Linked DNA regions of Homo sapiens. The protein of the gene in region 4 interacts with the protein of the main gene of each other region in a pairwise test. Each region holds a gene or a part of one and is shown on either strand. Other genes may lie near its edges.

What was found.
Region 1: the proteins of MRM1 (region 4) and MAL2 interact in binary tests that used the Homo sapiens proteins (3 or more experiments, as listed by UniProt).
Region 2: the proteins of MRM1 (region 4) and FKBP7 interact in binary tests that used the Homo sapiens proteins (3 or more experiments, as listed by UniProt).
Region 3: the proteins of MRM1 (region 4) and VKORC1L1 interact in binary tests that used the Homo sapiens proteins (3 or more experiments, as listed by UniProt).
Region 5: the proteins of MRM1 (region 4) and TMEM11 interact in binary tests that used the Homo sapiens proteins (3 or more experiments, as listed by UniProt).
Region 6: the proteins of MRM1 (region 4) and KLRG1 interact in binary tests that used the Homo sapiens proteins (3 or more experiments, as listed by UniProt).
Region 7: the proteins of MRM1 (region 4) and NXPE3 interact in binary tests that used the Homo sapiens proteins (3 or more experiments, as listed by UniProt).

What each region holds. Positions count from the first base shown.
Region 1 is NC_000008.11:119,239,363-119,242,767, reverse strand, and holds part of MAL2 (protein MAL2), read right to left. Parts: intron 2,604-3,405; coding exon 2,448-2,603; intron 1-2,447. UniProt on the Homo sapiens protein: Member of the machinery of polarized transport. Required for the indirect transcytotic route at the step of the egress of the transcytosing cargo from perinuclear endosomes in order for it to travel to the apical surface via a raft-dependent pathway.
Region 2 is NC_000002.12:178,468,601-178,472,100, forward strand, and holds part of FKBP7 (peptidyl-prolyl cis-trans isomerase FKBP7 isoform a precursor), read right to left. Parts: intron 2,925-3,500; exon of another isoform or gene 2,837-2,924; intron 1,186-2,836; coding exon 1,052-1,185; intron 1-1,051. UniProt on the Homo sapiens protein: PPIases accelerate the folding of proteins during protein synthesis.
Region 3 is NC_000007.14:65,949,574-65,953,073, reverse strand, and holds part of VKORC1L1 (vitamin K epoxide reductase complex subunit 1-like protein 1), read right to left. Parts: intron 1-3,500. UniProt on the Homo sapiens protein: Involved in vitamin K metabolism. Can reduce inactive vitamin K 2,3-epoxide to active vitamin K, and may contribute to vitamin K-mediated protection against oxidative stress.
Region 4 is NC_000017.11:36,604,583-36,607,023, reverse strand, and holds part of MRM1 (rRNA methyltransferase 1, mitochondrial precursor), read right to left. Parts: intron 1-2,441. UniProt on the Homo sapiens protein: S-adenosyl-L-methionine-dependent 2'-O-ribose methyltransferase that catalyzes the formation of 2'-O-methylguanosine at position 1145 (Gm1145) in the 16S mitochondrial large subunit ribosomal RNA (mtLSU rRNA), a universally conserved modification in the peptidyl transferase domain of the mtLSU rRNA.
Region 5 is NC_000017.11:21,197,454-21,200,807, forward strand, and holds the end of TMEM11 (transmembrane protein 11, mitochondrial), read right to left. Parts: intron 1,388-3,354; coding exon 871-1,387; 3' UTR 501-870; downstream 1-500. UniProt on the Homo sapiens protein: Plays a role in mitochondrial morphogenesis.
Region 6 is NC_000012.12:8,988,412-8,992,345, reverse strand, and holds the start of KLRG1 (killer cell lectin-like receptor subfamily G member 1), read right to left. Parts: upstream 2,801-3,934; 5' UTR 2,711-2,800; coding exon 2,629-2,710; intron 2,135-2,628; exon of another isoform or gene 2,001-2,134; intron 141-2,000; coding exon 36-140; intron 1-35. UniProt on the Homo sapiens protein: Plays an inhibitory role on natural killer (NK) cells and T-cell functions upon binding to their non-MHC ligands.
Region 7 is NC_000003.12:101,796,211-101,799,710, forward strand, and holds part of NXPE3 (NXPE family member 3 isoform 1 precursor), read left to right. Parts: intron 1-3,500.

The DNA.
Region 1 (3,405 bases), on a different chromosome or scaffold from region 4:
AAAGCAAAAGCAGTTCAACATGATAAATGTTTGATAAATGTTGTGGGTTTAGCACAGGGATTCTTAACCAGGAAACCAGTTCTGGGAAGGAATACCAGATTCACCTATAGACCATTTTCACAGTTTACTATTCTGCTTTTCTTTCCACCCTTCTTCTGCTGATTTTTTCTCTGATACATTTCTAATCTAGACATTGTTTTCTGAATGACAGCAATAGCTTTTGATACCTATTTTTTGATACCTATTATTTGATACCTATTATTAGGGAAAAGGAATTTTCCTCTCTAATTTCCCAAATGGATGGCTAATACATTTTAGTTACAATAAAACTCAAACTAGAGATTTACTTAGACTGGAGTGAGCATATGGATGAAATGGGATGTAATGTTGAACTTGAAGCATGTAGAGGTTTACTGAGACAGCTTCACTTAGAAAGGGAAGGACAACAGGGACAAAGTCACAAAAGAGAAGCAGCCAGAACAGAACTACATTATGGAGAACACGGAAAACTAGGCCCTTAGGACAAAGGTGACAAATTAAAGACCTCAGACAACCATCACGTATTTCAGCAGCTACTATTCTTGTGAAAGTAGGTTCTAGGGTGACTGTCAATAGATTTGGGGCTACTTCAATGATCCAAGATACAAGAATCTAGCCTGCACCGTTAAAATGAAGGGACTGGAAGTAAGAAACACATAAAGGCAAATACAATGGGAATTGATGACTAATAGCATAGGAAAGTCCCTGAACTTTGCTTTGTAAAGCTGTTAAAACCAAGGGTTTTCTAATGTGGATCACAAGGATTCTATCATCCTCAGGGATGATATGGGTGGGTAGAGGCAGCTTTATGAAAAGAGAATGAGCATCATTCAAGGCCCTCTTCCTCCACTTCAACTAGAGCACTTACACTTTTATCTTCTAGATTTATTGGGGTTTTAGGTAAGAATTGATTAAATAAAACCTTTATTTCTTTTATAAGCAAGTGTTAAAGTCATGAATCTACACTATAAACCTTTCAAAGCTAAAACCATGACTCCTTTTTGTTGTAATCCCACCTTCAGCCTAATTCATTGCAGGCACTCAATAAATTTTGACAAATCCTACCAGAGACTTGGGAAACTTACAATAGGTCTTGAAATCATTTGTCTTGTACCCCTCAAAACTCACTCTAGACATGTATTATCTAACATGATAGCCACTAGGCACATGTGATTATTAAAATTAAATAACACTAAAAATTCAAGTTCCTTAGTCATACTAGTTATCTTTCTCTCCCCCGACCAGAGTCTTGGTCTGTCGCTCAGACTGCTCTGCTCACTGCAACCTCCGCCTCCTGAGTAGGTAGCACTACAGGCACAAGCCACCAGGCCTGGCCAATTCTTTATTCTGTTTTTTTTCCTTTTTCAGAGACAAGGTTTTGCTATGTTGACCAGGCTGGTCTCAAACTCTTGGCCTCAAGCAGTCCTCCCACCTCGGCCTACCAATGTGCTGGGATTACAGGCATGAGCTATGATTCCTTGGCCTAGTTAATTTTCAACTGCTCAATAGCCACATGAAGCCAGTGGCCACCATTTTGGACAGCACTTACATGAAATATTCCTGTCATTATAGAAAGTTCTACTAGACAGTGCTGCTCCAGACAGATTTCAATGACTATATGAGTACTGGGTTATTTATAGGCTACCTGGGGAACATAATAAAACATTAGGGTCACTAACTTGCCATATACTTATATTAAATATCACAATATTTCAGAAACTAATTTGGACTTCTGACATCTTAACAATGATCTCTAACAACAAAAATAATATATTATTTCCTCAAATTATCTACACAAAATGACAAATTCACTCCAGTATACGAATTAAAGATGATTTAAAAAATTTAATAAATACCCCAAGGAATATATTTCATCTGCCTATCATCTACTGCAATGGCTGGCATATTTGCCTCCCTTTCTCACCTGCACTTTCCTTAATGGCAGGAACTGCAACTTATTCACCCCATCCTCAACACCCAGCAAAATTACTTGATAAATGGTAGGCCCACAGTAACTATTCATTCAATAGAAATAAATTGCAAGCAGCTATTGAATACTAAAGAACAAAACTGGAAATCTCCTTTACCATCTCTGAAAGTTATCAGAAGCAAAAAACACAACTCTTTTTGCAAAGTAGACACTGCTGTGCAAAGCCAAGCAGTCCTACTGGCTTGCTATGATCTTACATGAACATCAACCTCTTCGTGCTACAGTTTAATCATCCACAACACTGGGGGTGATCATGGCACTTTGCTTACAAGGTTATTGTACAGATAAATAGCTATTACATATTTAATGCCAATGGCTAGCATTGAAGAAAACTATTGTTGCCTGAGGAGTTTCTTGGAGGCCTTGACAGTGGAGCGGAAGTGCTGGTGAATGGTACTCATTGAATATGAATACTTACTGAGGCTGCTACGTTTATGTTATACTGGTTATCACTCAGGAGTGGCTGCCCGGTTATGGTTGTATTGCAATGCAAATCATGCAGGGATGTGGCTGCTGCTTCCAATAAAAAGGCTCCAAAATAGAAGACAAATACTGTAAAATGGTAGGCAAAATCCTAAAAGAGGAGAGAAAAGACATCTGCAATTAAAAAAAAATATTTTTCTGTTCCTTATTTTAAATAATGAAGTTTAGGTTTAGCAAGATCAAAACATTTAATTAAACAATCTTAACTATATTCACTGTTAAGCTTAGCTGCTTTAGAAATGTTAGACTATCAGAACCCAAGCGAAAATCAACTGACCCATCTTAATTGGCACATTGGTAAACCTTTCCATATACTGAATTTTATAATATGTAATTTTATTTTTTTATTATTATACTTTAAGTTTTAGGGTACATGTGCACAATGTGCAGGTTAGTTACATATGTATACATGTGCCATGCTAGTGTGCTGCACTCATTAACTCATCATTTAGCATTAGGTATATCTCCTAATGCTATCCCTCCCCACAACAGTCCCCAGAGTGTGATGTTCCCCTTCCTGTGTCCATGTGTTCTCATTGTTCAATTCCCACCTATGAGTGAGAATATGTGGTGTTTGGTTTTTTGTTCTTGCGATAGTTTACTGAGAATGATGATTTCCAATTTCATCCATGTCCCTACAAAGGCCATGAACTCATCATTTTTTATGGCTGCATAGTATTCCATGGTGTATATGTGCCACATTTTCTTAATCCAGTCTATCATTGTTGGACATTTGGGTTGGTTCCAAGTCTTTGCTACTGTGAATAATGCCGCAATAAACATACATGTGCATGTGTCTTTATAGCAGCATGATCTGTAGTCCTTTGGGACCCAGTAATGGGATGGCTGGGTCAAATGGTATTTCTAGTTCTAGATCCCTGAGGAATCGCCAC
Region 2 (3,500 bases), on a different chromosome or scaffold from region 4:
AACAGAGAAAGACCCTGTCTCTAAGAAAAATTTAAAAAATTGAAATGTAAGAACAGTCATGAAGCCAGATTGCCCAGGTTTTGCCCCTTACTACTGTGTGATTTTTGGCTGATTAACCTGATTATTATTTTCCCCATCTAAAAGCGAAGATGATGACAATAGTGTCTGCCCCATAAACTATCATGAAGATTACATAAGTTCACATACTTATGTGCTTATAAATAGTACCTGGTACTAAAAGTATAAAATAAATGTTATCTATTATTATCTTTTTTTTTTTTTTGGAGGCAAGGTCTCAGTCTATCTTCCAGGCTGGAGTGCAGTGGCATGATCACAGCTCACTGCAGCCCCAACCTCCTGGGCTCAAGCGATCCTCCTACCTCTCAGCCTCCTGAGTAGCTGGGACCACAGGTATGCACCACCATGCCTGGCTAATTTATTAAATCTTTTGTAGAGACGGGGGTCTCCCTGTGTTGCCCAGGCTGGTCTTGAACTCCTGGGCTCAAGCAATCCTCCCACCTCGGCCTCTCAAAGTGTTGAGATTATAGGCATGAGCCACATGCCCAGCCCAATTATCATTATTATTACAAGATCTTTATTACAAGGCTGAGATACAGACGCTAGCTGGCTGAACTTCTGGCTCCTGTTTACCAACTTTCTAGCCCACTCAATTCAGACCCTTGCTAGCTCTTTTCATCATCCTATGAGGCGTGAATTATTTGCCCTGTTGCAAATTCTTACAGTGCTGTCTGAAAAAGAGATATGCTAGTGTAATCTAGAAACTGGAAGAGCACTGTAGAGACAAATAATTCGGGATTTTAATGACTCTCTTGCAGGGAGAAAGGCAATTGAACAGGATGACTCACAAGGTTTATACTGAAAAAGCTTAGAGCTTTTTCTAAGCGCTTAGATTATTTTTTAGTGACCAGCTCTATAAAAGCAGTGATCAGAGCCCATGCTAGCTAGACCTAAAAAGTAATAGTTGTAACACAGATGTATTTAAACTGTGATAAAAAAATTAGACTATACACATGAAATTGGTTTGAATTACCTCGGCTTTAGAGAGCTGCCTGTCATTGTCCATGTCTATTTGTTTAAATGTCTCAATGCTCCGTGGTCCTTTGGTCACAGCATAAAGTTCAATCTCAAAAATCAATGTAGCATCCGGTGGAATCTTGCCTTCTGCTAAGGGTATAAATTTTAACAGTTTAACTTATGTAAAGATATAGTTCAAATATCTATTCATGAACTGCCATAACCATATTATATTATTTCATGTTGATAAGAATTGCTATCTGAATACTCACAATTTTTAATTTTTTCTCATCTTTTATAACTTTTTTCGGCTTTTCAATAGTTTTCTTTTTTGTTTTTTTTTCTCTTTTTTTTATAAATACTTTTTTAGGAATATTTTTTCCATATGTTTCCAAACCAAGTCAATTCAAAGGACCTATGGGACCACTATTTCTTGATTAATTTAAGTAAAAATCATAAACTTTTTATTAATGCATGGATATGACCCTCTATATCTGTGGGTTCTGCATCTGTGGATTCAACCAGTCTCGGCTTGAAAATATTCATACAAAAAAAGGATAGTTGTGTCTGTAATAAACATGTACAGACTTTTGTCTTGTCATTATTCCCTAACCAATACAATATAACAATCTTTTACATAACATTTACATTGTATTAGATATTATAAGTAATCTAGAGATAATTTAAAGTACACCGGAAGATGTCCAGAGGTTATGTGCAAATGTGATGCCATTTTGTATCAGGGGCTTGAGCTTCTGTGGATTTTGGAATCCATGAGAAGGTCTTGGAACCAATCTCTAACAGGTACTGAGAGACAACTGTACTCTCCTATCATCAACACAGAAGAGAGGTGGCACAGAGAAGAAATGCATGGGCAGAAAAATTGCAAAGCATAGATGAGTCATCTTTTAGAAAGTGATTTTGTGTAGTTATTTGGAAGCATAAATAAAACATAAGTATTAATATATTTGTCTTTCAAATTTTTTATAGACATTAAAAAATAAGTGCAATGATAGAAAAATCCAGTAACAGGCTGGGCACAGTGGCTCACACGTGTAATTCTAGCACTCTGGGAGACCGAGACAGGAGGATCACTTGAGCCCAGGAGTTTGAGACCAAACTGGGCAACATAGTGAGACCCTGTCTCTATTAAAAAAAAAAAGAATTAAAATAAAAATTCAGTAACAATTTTACAAAGAAATTGTATACATTTTTAAGCAATAAGTTGAATACCTATTTTTATTTTTATTTATTTTTTTTGAGACGGCGTCTCACTCTGTTTCCCAGGCTGGAGTGCAGTGGTGCAATCTCCGCTTACTGCAGCCTCTGCCTCTTGGGTTCAAGCCATTCTCCTACCTCAGCCTCCTGAGTACCTGGGATTACAGGTGCACACCAGGCATTGCATTATTAGTAGAGATGGGGTTTCACTATGTTGGCCAGGCTAGTCTTGAACTCCTGACCTCAGGTGATCCGCTTGCCTTGGCCTCCCTAAGTGCTAGGATTACAGATGTGAGCCACTGTGCCTGGCCAGAATTGCTCTCTTTAATTAAGTTAACCTATTAGCTGATGTCACAGATTTTTTTTTTTTTTTTAGACAAGAATCTTCCTCTGTCACCCAGGCTGGAGTGCAATGGCACGATCTCGGCTCACTGTAACCTCTGCCTCCCAGGTTCAAGCAATTCTCCTGCCTCAGCCTCCCGAGCAGCTGGGATTACAGGTGCCTGCCACCAATCCTGGCTAATTTTTTATACTTTATTAATAGAGATGGGGTTTCACCATGTTGGCCAGGCTGGTCTCAAACTCCTGACCTCAAAGGATCCACCCACCTTGGCCTCCCAAAGTGCTGGGATTACAGGCGTGAGTCACCGTGCCAGGCCATGATGTCACAGGTGATTTTAATAAGTGATGGGCTATTTCAGATAAATATGTCATAAAAGTGACTTGCAAAAATGACTTGCTAAGGGGCAGCGGGTAGCTTGTGTCATCAGTATATTGCCAGTGTCCTACACAGTGCCTAATCTACTACAGGCAGTCCAATATTTGCCGAATGAATGACCCATATCATTTATTTTTAAAATGTTTGTCCTTGGAAGGAAACAGCAATTTCTTTAATAAAAAAGTGAAGCATTCTAGCTAAAGTCTTTATATAGTCTGAAGAGAAAAGAGTTTGTGAGTTATAGCCAAAAGGAGTAGCAGATTAGTAGTTTTCAAAGAGAAAACATAGAAAGATCTACCCATGCATCATATGACTAACATAAAAGTCCTAACCTAATGCACCACATATTACCTGACTTTAGAGTAGAAGAGCTAGAGATTGAGTCAATGATTGTTTTATAAAACCCATTCCTATTTTTTCCAGTTATCTCCTTATGACAGAATTATTGTCTCCTGACAATAATTCAAGGCAAACTCAAAACACAAATTCAAATTTCTTTTCTTTTCGTTTTTTTTTTTTTTTGAGACAG
Region 3 (3,500 bases), on a different chromosome or scaffold from region 4:
TGTAATGCTAGGACTTTGGGAGGCTAAGGCAGGCAGATCATTTGAGGTCAGGAATTTGAGACCAGCCTGGCCAACATGGTGAAAGCCCCTCTCTACTAAAAAGTACAAGAGAAAAAAAAAATTAGCTGGGCATGGTATTGCACGCTTGCAACCCCAGCTACAAGGGAGGCTGAGGCACGAGAATTACTTGAACCCAGGAGGCGGAGGTTGCAGTGAGATAAGATTGCACCAGTGGACTCCAGCCTGGGCGACAGAGTCTTAACTCTGTCTCAAAAAAAAAAAAAAAAAAAAAAAAGGAAAAAAAAAGGCACCTGAATTCTGGACTCTATCTTCACATGTATTGTTTTTAATTTCTTATAGGCAACAGTATAGAGAATATGTGCATTTATTTTCAAGGACAGAGAAGGCAGAGCATGTTAAACTACCCTCCTACCCAATGACTCATGGATAAGGATAACAGAAACAGGAACAAAATAACAGGTGGGAGCAGGTATAAAGAAGTCAGTTAAAGAGCTGAAATCCTGGGCCCTGTTGGCAAAAAAAAAAATGCAACAAGAAGACGCCTGTGGGCCGGCTGCCGCACAGCCACGGGCCTAGATGCTTTCATAGGGCACTTCAAGACTAAGGTGCTGCTGAATTACTTGTTGCAGGGACTAGCAAATCTGGCCAGCTACCTGCTTTTGTAAATAAAGTTTTATTGGCACCCAGCCATGCTCATTCATTTATGTAATGTCATTCATTACGTAATGTCTGTGACTGCTTTCATACTAGAAGAGTTGAGTGGCTGCGGCAACTGGCAAAGCCTATTTTCTGCCAGGCCCTTTACTGAAAAAGTTTGCTGACTTCACCTATGCTAAACAACTAACATTTCGAAATTAATGTGGTCACAATTTTACCTAAGAAAGTTAACTTCAGAATGATACGGGCAACTTATTTCTTCCTCTATGCCTTTCTTTTCTCAACTGTAAAATTGGGATAACAATCATGCCTACTTCTTAAGACTGCTGGGCAATTAAATGAGCTGAGATAATGCAGGATTAAAGCACTTAGAATAGTGTATAAATACCAGATATCCATTAAATGCTACTGTAATGCAGCTAGGTACGTTTGGCTCAGGGTCAAATTCCCAGTGGAATTTAAAATGTGCTGTAACTCTAAATAAATGATGGTACAATTATGCAATGGATTATTCTGCAGCTGTAGAAAAGAATGAAGACATTTAATATACTGATATGGAAAAATCACCATGATATATTCATCAGGCAAAAAAAGAAAATGCAAGCTGCAGAACAGTGGGTATAGCATCTGCCTTTTATATTTTAAAAAGGAGGAAAATTAAGATTGTGTATTTGTACTTTCTCGTATATGCATAAAGAGACAATAACAAGCTACCAGTCGGGGCTGAGGAGCACTGGAAACCAGGCATAAAGGGAAGGGGTGGGATAGATTTTTCTTTGTGTAACATTTTATATATGTATATATATATATATTTTTTTTTTCCTGAAGGAGTCTCGCTCTGTCACCGAGGCTGGAGTGCAATGGTGCGACATTAGCTCACTGCAACCTCTGTCTCCCAGGTTCAAACAATTCTCCTGCCTCAGCCTCCCAAGTAGCTGGGATTACAGGTGTGCGGCACCACACCTGGCTAATTTTTGTATTTTTAGTAGAGATGGGGTTTCACCATGTTGGCCAGGCTGGTCTTGAACTCCTGACCTCGTGATCCACCCATCTTGGCCTCCCAAAATGCTGGAATTATTGGCATGAGCCACTGTGCCCGGTCCTTTTTAAAAACTTTTGAACCACGTGAATGGATTACCTATGAAAAAATTAAATTAAAAATGCTGTGTCTCAAACAGGTTAGAAGGGAGTACAGATGCTGTGCTCTGGAAATTGCTAGGTTAGTTCAAATGTGCCTCCCATGAAGACACCAACATTAAAAGGCACGTGAAGCATCTAAATGCGAGTCAAAAAATGCGAATGAAAAAACACATGTGATAAATATGATTTAAAATATGTATATACCATGGCATTAAATTAATGGTAAAACAAAAATTTGGCTGTCACACCTCTATCTTCAAGAGTTAATCTAGTCAAAGGCTGTTCTTAGGTTCTTTGCCTTTAAAGGAAAACATCTTGCATCTGGGCTTATACTTCATATTCTTCTCTAGAAATCCAGCAAAATGGAAACATGCAGAATACCTAGTGAAATTTCTCCCTCCTCCCCAACCACCCGACCCTTTTCTATGCATTTACATGCATGTATACAAACACGTTTATCCTATACCTATTATACCAAAATTTGCTTTTTTCACTAAATAGTGTCTTTATCTTTCTAGGATATAAACATAGATCTCCTTTTTCCTTTAATGGCTACATAGTATTTCATAGTATTTTCTAATTTATTCAACCATTATCTATTTGTAACCTACCTCCATTTTTTTTTTGCTATTTTACACTGTACTGCTATGAATATCCTTGTGCACACATCTTTCTACTTCTGCAAGATAAATACATAGATATGGAACTGGGCAAACTCGACAGAACTACTGAGGATGATTTAGATTTATAATTTGCCTCATAACAAATCAATTTCAGATAGAAGAGTTACATGTATTTTTAATGAACCAAATCAGAAGAGCTGACAGGTAATGGAATATTAACAATTAAAATACAAAAGCATTGGTATGCAACAAGATCTACAAAAAAGAAGAAAAATAAAATGCAAAGGCATCAACAGATGGATTTAACTCTAAAAGTATAAAAACTTAATACAATACAAATTCATAACACTAACAAAAAAGGATAAAGAATGCATAAAATGTTTGTAACACATATAAAAATGTACTAGTATCGGGATCCAATAACTAAATGCTAAATGGGCAATAAAAGGAAATTAAAAAGAGTAAAAATTAAAGTAATAGGTACTAATGTGTAACTATTAGCAATTTTTCCAGGTGAAGATTATCGTTACAATTAAAAAAAAAAGAAATTTTACAAAGCATGTCTTAAAAATAAAGACCGCTGGAGCTTCAGGGAAACCAAAGAACTGAGGGAAAAGCAAATTGGTAACACTGATTAAAATTGAAAATATCTGTGTTTTTTGATACTATGCTTGGAAATTTATTTTGTGGAGATAATTCAAAGGAAGGAAGGAGCAGGAGGTCTTTAAACAAAGTTGATCACTGCAGCATTATTTGGAAGTAAAAGGAGTGAAACCTAGATGTTAACAATAACACTTAGGATAAACGACACTATGTTGAAACACAGTTCACATTAAATTATTAGTTTTTGAGACAGCGTCTTGCTCTGACCCCCAGGCTGGAGTGCAGTGGTGTGATCTCGGCTCCCTGCAACCTCCATCTCTTGGACTCAAGTGATTCTCTCACCTCAGCCTTTCAAGTAGCTGGGACTACAGGTGTGTGCCACCACACCTGGCTAATTTTTGTATTTTCTACAGAGACAGAGTCTCACCATGTTGCTCCTGGGCTCAAGTAATCTGC
Region 4 (2,441 bases):
AGAATCGCTTGAACTCGGGAGGCAGAGGCTGCAGTCAACCGAGATTGCGCCATTGTACTCCAGCCTGGGCAGCAAGAGTGAAACTCCATCTCAAATTAAAAAAAAAAACAAAAAACCAGGCGCAGTAGCTCACGCCTGTAATCCCAGCACTTTGGGAGGCCGAGGCGGGCGGATCACCTGAGGTCAGGAGTTTGAGACCACCCTGGCTAACATGGTGAAACTCCGTCTCTACTAAAAACACACAAAAAATTAGCTGGGTGTGGTGGCACATGCCTGTAGTCCCAGCTATTTGGGAGTCTGAGGGAGGAGAATCGCTTGAACCCGGGAGGCGGAGGTTGCAGTGAGCTGAGAGCACACCACTGCCTCCAGCCTGGGCAACAAAGCGAGACTCCACTCTGTCTCAAAAAAAAAAAAAAGACTAGCCTGAGCATCATGGTGAAACTCTGTCTCTACTAAAAATACAAAAATCAGCCTGTAATCCCAGCTACTCAGGAGACACGAGGATCTCTTGAGACCAGGAGGCAGACATTGCAGCGAGCTAAGATTGCGCCACTGCACTCCTGCTTGGGTGACAGAGTGAGACCCCCATCTCAAAAAAAAAAAAAAAAATTATCCATCAGAGCCCTGGCCAAGGAAGAGCCCAGCCTTGCCCATACATTCATTTATCTGCTGATCCAGTCAATTAGTCAATAGTTATTAAGCACCTAGCATGGGCTCTGTTCTAGGCACTGAGGACAGGGCACTGAACAAAACAAAACAGACCAAAATCCCAGCCTTGTGGAAGGGCAGGTGGGGATGGACTCACTGAGGTGACATTTGAGTGCAGACCTGAAGGAGAAGGAGGAGCACCGTGCAGACATCTGGGGCAAGAACATTCTAGGCAGAGAGATCAGCAAGCACAGAGGCAGGTGCCTCCCTGGCATGTTTGAGAACAGTAAGGTGGCCAGTGGGAAGAGAGGCGTCAAGACAGAAGAAGGAACAAGAGCCACATGAGGTATGGTCTCCAGGGCTACTGGAAGGACTCTGCCTTTGAATCTGAGCGGTACAGAGGCTTTGAAAGGTTTTGAGCAGAGAAGTAACATGGTATGACTTCAACAGAATCACTCTGCCTGCTGTGCTGAGAGCCAAGAGCAGAAGAAAGGAGGCCAGGTGGGAAGTTTCTGCAATAACGGTCAACAGATGATGGTGACTTGCTTGGGCCAGAGTGGTAGCAGTGGAAACAGGCAGAAATGGTGATAATACGGAAATAACTTTAGTTAAGGATGATGCCAAGGTTTTTGACCTAAACAACCAAAGGGATGGAGTTGCTCCAGAAGGAACAAGCGCTCAGTTTTAGAAATGTTAGGTTTGAAATGCCCGCCTGACAGCAAAACAACAACAACAATAACAACAACTGTGCAGTAGGCAACTAGATGAGTGAATCTGGAATTCAGAACCAAGGTCCAGGCTGGAGTATACACTTGGGCGGGAATTTGAATTCAGATAGTATTTAAAGCCATGAGACTAGATGAGACCAACAAGAAATGAACATATACAGAAAAGAGATCCAGGACCAGGTGAGGTGGCTCACGCCTGTAATCCCAGCATTTTGGGAGGCTAAGGCAGGAGGACTTCTTGAAGCCAGGAGTTTGAGACCAGCCTGGGCAACAAAGTGAGACCTCATCTCTACAAAAAAAAAAAGAAAAAGAAAAAAGAAAGAAAAAAATTAGGTGAGATGGTGTGCACCTGTATCTCCAACTACTCAGGAGGCTGAGGTGGGAGGATGGCTTGAGCCCAGGAATTCGGAGGCTATACTGAGCTGTGATTGTGCCACTGGACTCCAGGCTGGGCAACACAGCAAGACCCCATCTCTCTCTCTCTCTCTCTCTCTTTTTTTTTTTTTTGAGATAGAGTTTCACTCTTATTGCCCAGGCTGGAGTGCAACGCTGTGATCTCGGCTCACTGCAACCTCCGCCTCCTGGATTCAAGCAACTCTTCTGCCTCAGCCTCCCGAGCAGCTGGGATTACAAGTGCCCGCCACCATGCCCAGGTAATTTTTGTATTTTTAGTAGAGACAGGGTTTCACCATTTTGGCCAGGTTGGTCTCGAACTCCTGACCTCAGGTGATCCACCTGCCTCAGCCTCCCAAAGTTCTAGGATTATAGGCGTGAGCCACCGTGCCTGGCCAAGACCCCATCTCTTAACAACCGCTCCCGGCCAAGACCTCATCTCTTTTTTTTTTTTGACACGTCACTCTGTCACTCAGGCTGGAGTGCAGTGGCACAATCTCGGCTCACTACCACCTCCACCTCCCGGGTTCAAGCGATTCTCCTACCTCCGCCTCCCGAGTAGCTGGGACTACAGGCACGAACCACCACACCCAGCTAATTTTTTGTATTTTTAGTAGAGATGGTGTTTCACCGTGTTAGCCAGGATGGTCTTGATCTCCTGACCTCATGATC
Region 5 (3,354 bases), about 15 Mb from region 4:
CCTGTGGAACAGCGAGCACTGAGGCCAGGGGGTGCTTCCAAGATTGCTCCGAGGGCTCTTCTGTCAGCCTAGGGCAATGGGTTAATAAACTCATGGTCCACAGTAGGAAGAGTTTTGGTGCTTCAAAGAAAACACAGGTGTTCAGATCTCTGAAGAGCGATCCTGGAGCCCAGAGTTCCCCACGTGAACTCAAGTGGACACCCAAAGGCCTCCAAGCCTCGTCACCTTATCCTACCATGTTCCTGAACAGCATGGTGGCAGTGATGGCCTTCGGAATGATGAGGCCAAGGTGAGCCAGGAGACTGCTCCTGGGCGGGGTTTGGCCCCAGGACTACCTTGGATCTAGGCTTGTCGTCGCTGTAAGTGGTAACACTGGGCCGCAGCTAGGAGCAGGGCAGGGTGGCTACCATGGCACCTGCTCCTTCCATGTGCAAGCCGCCACCCAGAGCAGATGTGCAGCAGCAGCTGCGGGCAGTCATGGAAAGAGAGAACAGCGGGAGTTGAAATTCTCATAATTTTAATGATCAATAGCTTCTGGTGGGCTCTGGATGGTACAGTTAAACAATAGACTTAAAGACCTCCCCCAAAGCACGTCCACACCCCCTCGGCAGCGTCTGCCTCCATCAGCATTCCACTGCCCAGTCGGACTTCCACAGCCTCAGACCCCCCTCTTGGGTTATGGAAATCCACATCTTAGTGTAATGAGCTGAAAAACCCTGGGTACACCCGTGATCTGTTATTTTTTAAAAATAACAAATACTAAGCCAAACACCTGCCCAGGCTCTGCTGCCTCACAGAGTGTGGCGATCTGAATACTCTGTTGTCTCTTGTGGGCCGGGTGGTTTTGCTTCGCTCCCTGTTCTACTGAAATCATACGGCATAGAGTTCGTAAATCTTCTTTACACAGTACACCAGGGCGGCCAGTGCTATCGTGTTGTGCAGTCTCTTTCTGTGCAGGTCGTCCTTCCGGACCAGCACCACCGGGGTGGAGGAGGTGAGTGTGTGCAGAGGCAGGCGCGACAGTTTATAGGCGTCGTACTCCACTTGGTACTTGCAGCAAGGGTCAAACTGCCAGGAGATCCCATAGAGGGTGCAGCAGGCCAGGCTCAGCACACCAGCGGGCAGGGAAATGTAGTGGGAATAATCTAAGGGCAGCGCCAACGGGGTGAAGAGGCAGGCGGTGCCCGCCAGCACGGCCGTCTTGTGCAGGCAGTTGCCCACGGTGATCCAGCGGGCTGTCTCGTCGCCAATGCGAGTGGGCTCAATCACAATGTACTTGTACTGGGCTTCCAGGGCCTGCTCCAGCTCGTACTCAAACTGGTCTTGGGCATTCTCCCCATTGTAGATCTCATGCACAATGTAGCAGTCTGTGGCCGACAAGCTCACCCTTTTGATGGAGGGGGCAGGAAAGGGAGAGAGAGAGAGAGACAGGATGATTAGGCTGAGGAGCACTTAACTGTGTTTCAGCGCTGGGGGAGGTCTGAGCCTGCACTGCGGAGAGCACATCTCACTTGGGTCCTCATCTCCTTTAAATCCCAACACAAGATAATCAGTAAAAAGGATTTTTCCTGAAAATAGTGAAATAAAGCTGGGTGTGGTGGCTCACACCTGTAATCCTAGCACTTTGGGAGGCCGGGGGGGCGGATCATGAGGTCAGGAGTTAGAGACCAGCCTGGCCAACATGGTGAAACCCTGTCTCTACTAAAGATACAAAAAAAAATTAGCCAGGTGTGGTGGCGCATGCCTATAATCCCTGTAATCTACTCGGGAGGCTGAGGCAGGAGAATCACTTGAACCTGGGAGGCGGAGCTTGCAGTGAGCCGAGATCGTGCCATTGCACTCCAGCCTGGGTGACAGGGCGAGACTCAGTCTCAGAAAAAAAAAAAAAAAAAAGATATAAAAAGGCAGGAAAAGCAGTGCCTCGACGTTTAACATGACAAACACAGGCCTGGTGGTTAGCCTAAGGCTGTGGACCAACTGATCTGAGTCAGCAAAGGAGCCTAAAGGGGAAAGAACGATTCGGCACAGAATCACAGGAGCACACACGGCAGCAGAGGGCCAACAGCCTGAAAGCCATTCTTAGTTAATCAGGGCAACTGCAAGAGGATTCTTCACTGGAAACCACAGACCTCAGGACAGATAATGCTAAGCCCTTGCCCTCCGCACGTTTCCTAAGTAGTCATCCTGGGCCTGCAGAACAGAGGCAGAAAGGAAGAGCTTTGCCTTGGGCGAATGAAATCCAAACTCCTTTGGCTCTCCTGGAGGCCAGGCTGCACAAGCCCTGGGTGCCCTTCCTGGGCCGGCAGCAGCCCCCAGCTCCTCCCCGCTGCGGAGGGGAGAAGAGGAGACCCAGGACACTAGCCCACTGCATAGGAAAAGCGACCCTTTCCTTGAATTAGGAAAAGACAACGCTTCAAGAACAGTAGTGGGCTCCAAATTTAGTAAGCAGGAGGGTCAACTGAGGGGCTTCAAAACATCCAGCCCAGCAATGCCACCAATTCTGGCCCTGTAGGCCCAGGCCCCTGCACCACCGGCAAATGCCACTCATTTGCATAAGAAACACTGCCACGGAGACCACACAAGGGGCTTTCCCCCCCGGGACTGGGGATGCATGTCATGACCCCAACCAGCAGGAGAGTAATCCACCACACGGAACGCTCAGCTCTGCAGCAAGGCCAGACGGCAGCCCGGCTGCAGCCCCAGCAGTGACCGTGGGCCAAGCTGCATTTCAGGCAGTCTTGCTTTTCTTGGTTTCAGGCCTCTGCGGTACAAATTTCCCACCCAAAGCAGAATCTTCTTCACCTGTGGCGGGCAGGCCTGAAGACAGGGCTATCCATGCCTTGTCATCTTTCCTTGGCTGGTTTCAGCTGAGACAGATCTCTCTGAATCTCCGCACCGTCACCCCACATCCTAGTTTTCCGTTATCTGCTCATCTGCAAGAAGTCTTTATCTGGGCCTTGACGGGGACACTGCTAGACATAGCTCTTGAGGCTGGATCAAGTTTTCCAACTCATGGCTCCCAAGGCTGCACAGAGCCATGTTCTGTCACATGCCTCAGGGAAAAGCTGCCCCTTCCCTCAGCACACCCTGGTCCCCAGGATGGTCGGACCCATCTGACTAAAGGACACAAGGCTCCAGGGACCTGCTGGTCACTGCTCCCCTGCTGGAGTCCATGCCCTTCCAACTGGGAGGCTCTGGAACACTGTACCAGGCAACACAAGGGTCAATGTGGCCCATGTACCTGAAGCTCCGAATGTGCCTGACAGGAACTAGCTTCCTTTCATGGCTAACGAGAAGCACAGCCCTCAGTGTGCACAGACGCGAAGGTCCCGTCCGCCCAGCCTGTCCTGGCAG
Region 6 (3,934 bases), on a different chromosome or scaffold from region 4:
ATGAAAGATTAATTTTGGTTTAAGTTTGCACTTACCCTGGCACAGGATCCACTGGTATAGCAGCACACTCAGAAGAACTGCAGTCAGAAGCCCCAAAGCTATTGCCACAAGGCAAGAACAAGAAGGCCTGGAAGAGGAAGCTGCAACAACAGAGTCAAAGCACAATCCTGAGTCAGATGACAGGTTGAAAGAAAAGAGAAAGTCAGGGAAGGATATCGCATCTTAAAGCAATTTGGCCTAGTGGGAACTGAGATCCAGGCCATAAAGATTCCTTTTCTAGATGTGTCAGGAACTTGCTCTAAAGTCTAAGGTAACCACCAACACCTGTATCAAAGAACTTACTATATTTATCAAGATAAAGAATGCTTTTTTCCTTTGAAACTGTGACTTACACTGTCTCATACTTAGGTGGTGAGAATACAAATTGGTACCTCTTTGGAGGACAATTGGGCAATATCTACCAAAACGGCAAAGGCATGTACCCTTTGACCTAGAAATTTCTCCTTAAGAAATTTTTCCTACAGATACTCGCGGGTGCAAAATGTCATATTTATTCGTGGCAGCAATATTTGTAGGAGGAGAAGACTGAATACAATCTACATTCTATCAGTAAAAGGCCAGTCAAATACATTTTTGATATATCCATAAAGTGAATATATAGCTTCTAATAAAAACTGGCTTTTTTTTTAACTGATATGGAATATTTTGTAAGATATATAGTCAAGACAAAGAAACATTCTGCAGAACAGGATATACAAATATCTCTGCAAGCACACTCAAGAATCTGATAACATTGTTTGCCTCTGGAATGGAAAAAACAGTCACTGGAGACAAAATAGGAAAAAGACTTTTTACCCTATTTTCTTTTGTACCTTTTGAATTTTGAACCATGTAAACATATTATCTACTCGAAATTGAAATACATAAAATTTAAATAAAAATAATCTACATTTCAGAAGTGCTTTGTAAACTGTCGTTATTAAAAGAGCAGTAAGTTTAAGTTGATGCCAAGTTTAAGAATAGGACACTACTTCATGTTAGCTGTGTTGCATACAACCGAAATCTAAATTTTAAATTTGAAAAATGGAAGTATTTTCAGCAAATCTTTATTTTAAAATCAAAGGTATCTCATAGTGCAATAGTGTAGAAATTACGTGTAACGAGCAAAACTCTGTGAAGTAAGATGATATTTAACTTCTAATTTTGATTCCTTTGCTTAATAACATTTAATTAGGAAATTAAACTTGCCTATTTGGGCTTCAATTTTCTGATTAAATTTTAGATAAATTATTCTATATATGTGTGTATCTATGGAGTATTCTGAACTTCTTAAAGAAAAAAATTCATAATGAGAGATGCCTTCATAAATAGAGAATTCTGCATAATAAATATTTGGACTGATGAATCCAAAAGCATTAAGATTTCTAGAAAAACTTTTAAAAATACATTTGCATCACAGGAGAACATTTAATGAAATACACAAATGTTCATTTTTATGTTATGCTAAATTTTAAAAAGGTATCAAACCATAATTGAATTTGTGTAACCACAAGCCAATTCAAGAAGTAAAGTAAATTTTTAAAATTTACTTTAAGTATATATTGAAAGCCTCTAAATAGTTCCAACTAGGTTCCAATTTATCACCAGTTGTGTGTGTGACCTTGAACATATACTTTGAGATATGCATTACTTCTAACGTAATATTTCTATTCCTTAGAAATTAACATAGATACAATTCAAAAATAGGAAAAGGTTACACAAATAAAGATATCCAATGCTATATAATTTATGGTAATAGAAATAGGTCTAAATATCCCAAGTATACTAGAATGATTTAGCAAATTAAGGCAACACTCTCAAAAGACATTAAAAATTATAATAGTAAAACTATGTAGTAAAAAGAGAGAAAGCTTAGGGAACTACCCTAAAGAATACACCTTGTGGGAGTTCACTGCCTACGATACAAAATCAAGGATTAATTTTGGCATTTACACTATTACCTGTCTGTCTCAGATAATATTCTCTCAGGGCTCTATGTAAAAATGGCTCTTTTGCCTTCAAATCCTCAGTCACAGAGACTATTATCTGTAGTTTCTTGATACTTTTTCTTCCCTGTCACCATTCTAGTGCAACACTGTGAAGTTAAAAAAAAAAAACAAAACTAGATATGTAAATCAGTTTCTTTCCTGACAAAAATCTTACTCGTATCCACCAGCAAAACTATTGGTGTCCTCCTCATTCCATAGTCAGAAAAACAGCCATACCTAGAATTTAAACAGCTGGTCCAAGGTTACTCCGAATATAACTAAAGAGATAAAATTCTCCCAACAAAGTTCCCGCTTTAGCTAAGAGCAAGAAGGAATAACGGCAATGCCCTAAGTTGGGTTTCTAAGATGCGATCAAAGAAGTGAACAGTTAGAAAAGAGTTTACCTGAGACCTAAGATCAGATCCTGTACCATACACCAACTTTTCATATTCCAACTCTGGACTTTAAACTGAACCAAAAGTATTTCCTCAAATTATCCTCAATTCTTCTGCACCCTCTGCTTTAAACTTATTCTACTCCCCATTCATCCATAGCCTACTGTTGCTATGCATCGTCTTCCATGCTACCTTGGTTAACTCACATTTTTGCTGTGGTCCATAGTCATTCTGGGCTTGGGTTGCCGTAGGCAACTCTAACATGGAATAAATAACACTGTCAGTCATCTTCAGCTAAGATCTTTCACATGCAGTTGAGAGAGTTAAATTATAGAAGTGTGAAGGGATATGTATCAGTGAGGAAACAGCCCAATCTCTAAACTGCTAGCAGGAAACTTCACAAAAGCAGAAGTAATTTTTCAGGAAATGATTCAAATTTGGGGGCTGCCTATAGAAATTAATATTGTAAGTTGCTATTTTTTTGCCCCATGACACTGTAGATGCTCACTAAATATATATTAAATTGATTCCCCATCTCACCTAATTCTGTTGAGCAAGGAAAAATTGCTCTCAAGTCCAGCAATTTCAGTTATGGAAACTAAAATAAAAGTGAGAGTGGTTACTAGCTATGAATTTCTCTCGGAATTTTTTCTCTGCTTTGTTTCCTTCTGAAAAAGTAGATGTATGCCAAATGAGACTGACTTCATCATTTCTTGGAACTTTTGGGCAGTGATAAGCAATAACGAAATGGACTGTTGGGTGCATATGCCTGGAATCACGGGAGAAATAGACTATTACCCAGATATATTTTGTGAATATGACATGACCACATCTTCCCCAAAACCTTGTCCAAATTGTGTGATGGTCTTTACCCTTCACAGTATCAGAAATTCCATTATATTTTTTCTCTTTGTTGTCTTATTTTTTTTATTATTATACTTCATGCAAAGATAACTAAAAAGAAGAGCAAAGTAAACAAATACATTCTAACATCTTAGTAATTTGTTTTTAGTAGGTGAAAAGTTAATAAAAAGTTAGAGTAGGCCAGGTGTGGTGGCTCACGCCTGTAATCCCAGCACTTTGGGAGGCCAAGGAGGGTGGATCACCTGAGGTCAGGAATTCAAGACCAGCCTGGCCAACATGGTGAAACCCCGTCTCTACTAAAAATACAAAAAAATTAGCTGGGTGTGGTGGTGGGGGCTGTAATCTCAGCTGCTCAGGAGGCTGAGGCAGGAGAATGGCTTGAAACCGGGAGGCGGAGGTTGCAGCGAGCCGAGACTGCACCATTGTACTCTATCTAGCCTGGGCAACAAGAGTGAAACTCCGTCTAAAAAAAACAAAAGTTAAAGTAAGGAAACAGAAAGAGTATTGAAACTCTTAAGAGTGGATAAGATCATCAAGATAGACTGCATAAGGATAAAAGAAGAGAAACAGGGAGTGCTTTATATTAATTTGTTTTATATTAATAAAAACAAATATATTTCTGCTTCCAGCCATGACAGAATGGCATTA
Region 7 (3,500 bases), on a different chromosome or scaffold from region 4:
GGTTCACTAGGCCAGGAGTGAAATGGATGTGGGACAGGCAATCACCATGTTCACTCCAGCCCATAGGTTATGATGGCTTGAGGAGTGAGCCATCTGTTTGGTATTTCCTCTTAGCTCTAAACCTAAAAAGATGGCGGGTGTGAAGTTGCCCTTGTCTTTAGGAAAATTAAGCAAATTGACATTTTTGCATTTTTGTCATTTGCAAGTAAAATTCAGGGGAATTACCACCAAATGTGTGGTGATTTCTGGATTGGGTTGCATGTATCAGTCAGTTGGGCGAGGAAGAAAGGAAAAGGTTAGGAAGAGGAGCTATGCTGTAAGCACATGGTGCATGATTTGGTCCTTAATGGTGTGTCACAGACTTACAACAACTAAAAAGGAGAGGGTGGCTGGAACATTTCCTGAAAGGTAATCAGTAAGTTAATAAAGGGAATTTTTCAAAGTCAGTTTTGTTTTCCCCATGCCATTTTTTAAATGAACAAATACTGCCATATACTCCTTTAAAATGAAGCCTCCTAAATGAGATTCTTTAAAGTGAAAATGTGTGTATGTTAGTATAAAATCAGAGGGGAAAAATACAGAATCTAAGAAGAGCATTAAACATTCTTGTATCTTGAGATTATTTTTACCTTATGTAGGATTTTGAAGTGGTTTGTTATAGGTGGGGATCCTGAGGCCTTGTTTAAGTGTTTTACTAGAAACAAGGAAATGCTATAGCTATTGAGGAGAGAGATTTTTGGTTTTGCTTTGTTGTTTATTCCCCTGCAGTTTAACCAATTGCATAACGTAAGATGTAGTTTTCTACATCTTAGGTAGATTAGTTATATGCCTCAGGTTAGGTATATAACTTTTTTCCTGCCCATTTATTCCTGTATCCTGTTTACTAATAAAGTAATTCATGGAATAGATGGAAATTTCAAAGAATGGAGAATGGTATTAAGTACACAGTTGGATCCCCTCCCCATTCTTTACTCTGAGTGAATGTAGTTGCTTATTTTTAATTATTTGGGTAGTTAGCACTAATTATACATTACATACTTATATCTTGATTTGTGAACTTTACAAGGTATCTCCTGACTTGTTCATATGAGGCAGTGTATCATGGGTGGTTAAGAACACAGGTCTTAATTCAGACAGCTTGGCTTCTAATCCTCTGCTGCTTCTAACCTACATGGCCTTGAGCAAATTATTAAGCTATTCTTTTTTTTTTTTAATTTTTTTTTTTTATTATACTTTAAGTTTTAGGGTACATGTGCACATTGTGCAGGTTAGTTACATATGTATACATGTGCCATGCTGGTGCGCTGCACCCACTAACGTGTCATCTAGCATTAGGTATATCTCCCAATGCTATCCCTCCCCCCTCCCCCGACCCCACCACAGTCCCCAGAGTGTGATATTCCCCTTCCTGTGTCCATGTGATCTCATTGTTCAATTCCCACCTATGAGTGAGAATATGCGGTGTTTGGTTTTTTGTTCTTGCGATAGTTTACTGAGAATGATGGTTTCCAATTTCATCCATGTCCCTACAAAGGACATGAACTCATCATTTTTTATGGCTGCATAGTATTCCATGGTGTATATGTGCCACATTTTCTTAATCCAGTCTATGATTGTTGGACATTTGGGTTGGTTCCAAGTCTTTGCTATTGTGAATAATGCCGCAATAAACATACGTGTGCATGTGTCTTTATAGCAGCATGATTTATAGTCATTTGGGTATATACCCAGTAATGGGATGGCTGGGTCAAATGGTATTTCTAGTTCTAGATCCCTGAGGAATCGCCACACTGACTTCCACAATGGTTGAACTAGTTTACAGTCCCACCAACAGTGTAAAAGTGTTCCTATTTCTCCACATCCTCTCCAGCACCTGTTGTTTCCTGACTTTTTAATGATTGCCATTCTAACTGGTGTGAGATGATATCTCATAGTGGTTTTGATTTGCATTTCTCTGATGGCCAGTGATGATGAGCATTTTTTCATGTGTTTTTTGGCTTATTAAGCTATTCTTTGCCTCAGTTTCCTTGTCTCTAAAATGGACATAATAACAGGACTTACCACATGTGATAATTTGAACATTGAATTTAAAGATTCATGTAAACTGTTTACAAGAGTATCCAGCACATAAGTGATCACAATAAATGTTGGCTGTTTCTGCTACTGCTGTTTTTTAATTTTTCTTTCTTTTAAGCACAGGGTCTCACTCTGTTGCCCAGGCTAGAGTGCGGTGGCACAGTCATTGTTCACTGTAACCTCTAACTCCTGGGCTCAAGCAATCCTCATATATATACACATATATATGTATGTGTATATATGTATGTATATATGTATGTAGATATATGTCTATATATATAATGTATATATATGTGTGTCTATATATATATATATATTTTTTTTTTTTTTCTTTTAAAGTTTTTGAGACAAAGTCTTGTTCTGTTGTCCAGGCTGGAGTGCAGTGGCACAATCTCAGCGTACTGCAACCTCTGCCTCCTGGGTTCAAGCAATTCTCGTGCTTCAGCCTCCTGAGTAGCTGAGATTACAGGTGTGTACCACCACACCCAGCTAAATTTTTGTATTTTTAGTAGAGACAGGGTTTCACCATGTTGCCCAGACTAGTCTCGAACTCTTGAGCTCAAACGATCCCGATCTGTCCACCTCTGCCTCCCAAAGTGCTAGGATTACAGGCGTGAGCCACTGTGCCCAGCCCAGTTTTAATTTATATTTATTTATTTATTTGTTAGAGACAAGGTCTTGCTCTGTTGCTCTGGCTGGAGTTCCATGGTGTGATCATAGCTCACTACAACCTGGAGCTCCTGGGTTCAGTGATCTTCCCAGCTCAGCCTTCCGTGTAGCTAGGACTACAGGCATATGCCACCACGCTTGGCTAACTTTAAAAAAAAATTCTTGTAGAGATGGGGGTCTTGCTATGTTTCCCAGGTTGGTCTTGAACTCCTGGCCTCAAGCAGTTCTTCTGCTTCAGCCTCCCGAAGTGTTGGAATTACAGGCATGAGCCACTGCACCTGATCTACTACTGTTAACATAATGAAAGATGAGGCCTCTGCTTCATTCTCCTTCCACAATTTGTAAAATTAATTTTATTTCTATATATAACATTAAATAATGTATCTAGTCCTTTTATTTCCCCAACAGCATAATATATCTTAACTTCCTGCTCTAAGTGATGAAGAAAGCCCTACTCATTCTTATTTATTTATTTGTTATTATTTTTTTGAGATGGAGTCTCATTCTGTCGCCCAGCCTGGAGTGCAGTGGCGCGATCTTGGCTCACTGCAACCTCTGCCTCCTGGGTTCAAGCAGTTCTCTCCCTCAGCCTTCCGAGTAGTTGGGATTACAGGCGCCTGCCACCACACTCAGCTAATTTTTGTATTTTTAGTAGAGATGGGGTTTCAGCATGTTGGCCAGGCTGGTCTTGAACTCCTGACCTTGTGATCCATCTGCCTCGGCCTCCCAAAGTGCTGGGATTACAGGTGTGAGCC